Linked DNA regions of Homo sapiens: region 1 is linked to region 2. Evidence: fine-mapped expression QTL. A gene starts in region 2. The other region holds a variant in brackets. All regions are shown on one strand. Distances are from middle to middle.

Region 1 (2,500 bases), 33 kb after region 2:
CAATCTCTGCACTTGTCTCTTGGGAACTTTGGGTACCATATGCTAGAAGAGCACCAAAAAAGGAAGCTGTGGATTGTTCGCTTGCTGCAATGGTGCAGCTTTAAAAAATGGTGTGGAGGCCGGGCGTGGTGGCTCAGGCCTGTAATCCCAACACTTTGGGAGGCCAAGGAGGGTGGATCACCTGAGGTCAGGAGTTTGAGACCAGCCTGGCCAACACAGTAAAACCCCGTCTCTACTAAAAATACAAAAAATTAGCTGGACGTGGTGGTGGGTGCCTGTAATCCCAGCTACTTGGGAGGCTGAGGAAGGAGAATCACTTGAACCCAGGAGGCAGAGGTTGCAGTGAGCCAAGATCACGCCATTGCACTCCAGCCTGGGCAACAGAGTGAGACTCCGCCTCCAAAAAAAAAAAAAAGGTGTGGAAATTTATTTTGCTTTTCTTTTGCTTATAGAATACATTTGACATCGCCACCAAGAAAGCTTATCTGGACATATTTCTGCCCAATGAACAGAGTATTAGAATCGAAATTATAACATCAGACACTGCTGAAAGAGTCCTAGAGGTAAGCTTTGTTTAAACTCCAGCTCCAGAACTGAATCTAGGGATGGTTCTGTTTGGAAAGCAGAGAATGGGATACGGTTACCTTCCAGGAGCTTCTGGCCTGTTGTTTTACTCTGTGGATGATTATCTGCAGAGGTACTGGCATTTGCTGGGAGAACAACCAAGGAACCTAAGATACAGCCAATCCTCCAGGGCCTCTTTGATTTCACCCTCCCTGGGGGCACCAATTTTCCAGAGATCTCCTGGAAGGCTGCTGTCACTTCCTTGGAACTTAGCCAGGGATGTGGCCTGGAAATATGTAAAATGCTTTATTACTGGATGTCCCATCGTTGGGAGCAGGAAGGAAAGTGGGGCTTGGCAGAGTCTGAAACAGGTCATACCTAGGTGTGCAGGTGACAGGGGAGTTCTTGAAGGTTCCTATTCTCCCACAGGGAAAATTCTTGAAACCAGTGCTCCATCAGGGCTAATTCTGGGTGCAGAGGGCCCAGACATGAGTTGTAGTCCACTGTCTGAGGACTAATAGGACAAGACCCAGAAGGCTTCATCCTTCTTCAGCAGCTCTGCCTCCCAGACCCCTTTTCCATCTGCTGAGTGGGGCTGCAGAGGGGACACTGTCTTCTCACACTCACATCCTGCTGCCTGGGGGCAAGCTCCCAG[G/A]CCCTTTTCCTCTGGAAGGTTTTAGCTCTAATCCTCCAGAGAAACATACAAGAGAAAAGACAAAGTTATAAACATGAAGAAGAGTCAGAAAGTTTCTAGGACCTTTCAAAGGACAGAACGTTCTTGTGCTTGGGTTATGGTGTCTGACCCTTTCTGAGCTGAGAAACGGAAGCACTCCCATTTTGGCTGCTAGCTCTTCGGGCCTGCCTTGACTTAACCTATTCCTGTATCTCCAGTCTCTCTTATATTCATCGTCTCTCCGTTTCCTCCTCTCGATCCTACATCTTGACCTTAGCTCCAGCCCTCATTGTTTCCCAGCTAGATCTCTACAGCTGCCCCTAAACTAGTCTCCCTGCTTCCAGTCTTGCTAATCTTCTGTATTGATTTCCAGCATAGTCTTTCTAAAAAGTATCAAAAGCCCTTGATGCTTGAGGGAGTTTGTACCCCAAACACAAAAACCTCAATTGCTCAGGATCTAGAAGTGGGAGACAGACTCATAAATGAAGGAGGAGTAGGAAGGCAGTGATAGAGTGGGAGCCACAGACTGCATGTGTCTGGGGCCAGGCAGGTAGCTCTGGGGTACAGCTGCAGGATCAGATATAGAACAGGAGAGAGCACCTGCCTTCCCCAAAGACATCATCATTGACTTCTTTTTTTACACACTGGGCTTGCTGACCAAACTAGACATGCCTGCAGCTGAAGCCAGTGGTGGTGGTGATAGTTTGGGGTCTCCTATCTTCTGGGTTTAGGATGAGTCCTGGATTCAAATTACAGTCATGTGCCACATAATAATGACGTTTCGGTCAACATTGGACTGCATATACAATGGTGGTCCCATAAGTTTATGATACAATATTTTACTGTACTTTCTCTATGTCTAGATATGTTTTGGCCAGGCACTGTGGCTCACGCCTGTAATCCCAGCACTTTGGGAGGCCAAGGTGGGCGGATCACGAGGTCAGGAGATCGAGACCATTCTGGCTAACACAGTGAGACCACATCTCTACTGAAAAATACAAAAAAAAAATTAGCCGGGCGTGGTGGCGGGTGCCTGTAGTCCCAGCTACTCAGGAGGCTGAGGCAGGAGAATGGCGTGAACCCGGGAGGCGGAGCTTGCAGTGAGCCGAGATCGCGCCACTGCACTCCAGCCTGGGCGACAGAGCAAGACTCCGTCTCCAAAAATAATAATAATAATAACAATAGATATGTTTAGATACACCAATACTTACCAGCATGTTACAGTTGCCTAGAGTATTTAGTACAGTAACATGCCTACTATAC
Region 2 (2,989 bases):
GTGGAGTACACAGAAGGAGCTCAATAATGTTCACTGACTGAATGACTGAATAAGAGCTGACTGGCTACAGCAGAGGTCAGGGATGCAAGAGGACGGTGACTTGCACAGAGGCCTGTCCTGTTCCAGTTCAACTCCAGGGGGGCACTTAGTGAAAGGAAGGAAATGGCCCTGTTTGGACATGCCATGGGGTGAAACCAGGGTCCAGGCCATTCACTGGAGCAGGAAAGTTCCAGGAAAGCTGGGGCCACTTCTGGGTCTGACCAAAATGCTCTGCTTTGCCCTGAAGATCAGACCAGATTCCAGAGCTGCCGTGATCAGGCTTTGTCCCAAGAGGCACTCAGGAATACCCCTGGCCTTGGTATAGGGAGGCCTTCCAGATCAGAGATGGCCTATGGGCAGGGGAAATACCCTAAGGCCCATCTATCCTGGACTGAAAATTCCCTTGAAGTAAGTAGAGTTATTAACATGATTTCATAAGAAGGAACTGCAGCTTAAAGAGTGCACTAATTTCACACTTGTAATCTCAGCACTTTGGGAGGCCGAGGTGGACAGATCACCTGAGGTCAAGAGTTTGAGACCAGCCTGACCAACATGGAGAAACCCTGTCTCTACTAAAAATACAAAATTAGCCGGGTGTGGTGGCGTATGCCTGTAATCCCAGCTACTCAGGAGGCTGAGGCAGGAAAATCACTTGAACCCGGGAGGCAGAGGTTGTGGTGAGCTGAGATCGCACCATTGCACTCCAGCCTGGGCAACCAGAGCAAAACTCTGTCTCAAAACAAAAAAAAAAAAAACAAAAAAACACAAAAAACACTAATTTGCCCAAGGCCTCTCAACTAGAAGCCACTAAGCTGGGACATGAATTCCTGTTGCCATTCTCTTAACTACTATATGATACTGCTTCCCTCACTTAATGGCCCTAGCCTCAATTTCCTTTTCTATAAGACCAGAACTGTCAATGGCTCCTAGCCCACAGGTGTTTGTGAAAATTAAATGGCATAGCATATGTCAGGTCCTGGCACCCAGCAAGCACGCAGGAGGCACCGGTGTTTGGCAGGCGTCGCTTCTCCTTCCTTAGTCTCGGATTCCCGTTTCAGGCATGCAGCTCTTACCCCAGGGATGACTGGCATTTGAAAGGACTTTCAATGATCCTGATGAAATCCTGCAGTAAACGACTCAGACCCATGAAAAAAATGCCCTGTGAGCTTGGACAAGTTCCTCCACCCCCTGGGCCTGTTTTGTCCGTGGTAGGATGTCCTCTGTTTACCTGGAAGAGTTACGGGTAGATTAAAGGAGAGAGGGAAGAACGGAGCCAGCCCAGGCTTGCTACAGAACAGGCTGGTGAGAGCTGCAGCATCTCTGTGCTCTGTGATCACGGCAAGGTGGGAGGAATTCTAGTTTCATTTAACTAAAATAGAGAATTAGGAAGATTATTTTCCACAGCAACTAAAAATGAGAGACTGTTGAAAGAACTTGCACTGGGTAGTCCAGAGAACCAAGTGTTTATGTGAATGCACCTGTCTAAAAATGAGGGCTTCTCAGGGATCAAGAGAAACCCAAGCCATTTCCATTTGGGGGGGGCTTCTGGTATTTTAAGGGGAAAAAACAAGATTGAAAGAATAATACGAAAGCAAGGTTGCATATATTGCTGCATGTCTTGTGTTACATTTAACAAATGTCAGTACAAAAAAACTGACCAAACATAACTCTGCTAATCATAAGGCAGTTACTAGATCTATGTAATTACAGAAATCTTAATTAGTGCACTGCAGGCAGCGTTGGCAGGTAATGGGACACAAACTGTTTTCAAGCCCCTCACGGGCCTTCTTGGAGAAAATGCCAACAGTGGCCGATGTCCGGGGTGGGGGTGGCCGTGGATGCGCCCCAGCCCCAGGCGCCACCTATCCCGGGACCAGAGCGGCGGGGCTGGATGGGGCGGGGACTGGGAGGCGGCGCGGCCCGGCCCCGGCCCCACCTGTAGATGTCCCCGGCCGGCGAGAGCGGGCGCCGGGGTTCGCTCTGAGTCGCGTGGCAGGCCGCGCTGCGTCCACCGCTGCCGAGTTCAGAGCCGCGCACCGCCCGCCGCCGCAGGTCGGGTTCCCAGCGCTACTCCCAAGACACCGCTCAGCCATGAAGATGCATTTCTGTATCCCGGTGTCCCAGCAGCGGTCCGACGCGCTGGGGGGCCGCTACGTGGTGCGCCCAGGGCTGGGGTCAGGGTGGGCAGGGAGGGGGCCGGTGGCAATGCTCACTTATCCCTCGGCTCACCAGGGACGGGGTGTCTGTGTGTTTGCAGCTGTACTCCGTGCACCTGGACGGGTTCCTCTTCTGCAGGGTGCGCTACAGCCAGCTGCACGGTTGGAACGAACAGGTGAGCAGATTGGAGGCGGGTACGAGCCCATCCACTGAGACAGGTGGAGAAAGCTGTCCCCAAAGCGCTCTGTTCCTCTGACTCTGGCAAGACACTGGGCCTTTCACGGCCTCGGGCTTCCTATTGTGAAACAGGGTCCTGGTAAGGATGAACTGAATTGCTTGGCATACAGTTGGATGAATGCATGCTGCGGCTCCTGGTCGCCTACAGCTGTGAGATGAGGGAACCGGGCGCAGGTGATTCTTCCAAGCCCCTCGCAGTTGCAGCCGGGTGATCCCCGCTAGCGCCGCCTGGCAGGGCGCTGGGGCTATGCTGGGCCCCATTTCAGTGCCCGCTGTTCCCCAGGACAATGCTTCCCTCCAAAATTTGGAAACTGGGTCTAGATCAAGGCCTAGAGTCTTTGGAGTCTTGTACATGGGTATTTAATCTCCTTTGTCTCGAGAGTTTCTTAAGTTTGCCCCCTTTAAAAAGGTGTGTCTCTAGTTTTGTTTTTGAATGGCCATGAGGCTTCAAGTACTGGCAGGCTGGGAACCAGGGAACATGACTTACCAAGCTAGGATAGTTTCTCACCCTGCTGTCTTGACAGTATTTTCTCTGGGAGGCAGACTGATTTATTAG

What was found. PIP is the estimated chance that this variant, and not a neighbour inherited with it, causes the effect.
Region 1: its variant is fine-mapped to the expression of SNX31 in tibial nerve (GTEx, PIP above 0.99). The same link has a PIP of 0.9 or more in esophagus muscle, skeletal muscle, stomach and visceral fat.

What each region holds. Positions count from the first base shown.
Region 1 is chr8:100,615,683-100,618,182 of GRCh38, reverse strand. It overlaps SNX31 (sorting nexin 31), which reads left to right. Exons shown (of 14, transcript NM_152628.4): 5 at 453-563. Among named protein-coding and RNA genes, the nearest start is that of SNX31, 33 kb to the left of the region's middle. The variant G/A (reference allele first, on the strand shown) is at 1,220.
Region 2 is chr8:100,648,656-100,651,644 of GRCh38, reverse strand. SNX31 (sorting nexin 31) reads left to right here and starts at 1,980. Exons shown (of 14, transcript NM_152628.4): 1 at 1,980-2,196; 2 at 2,297-2,371. The coding sequence starts at 2,131.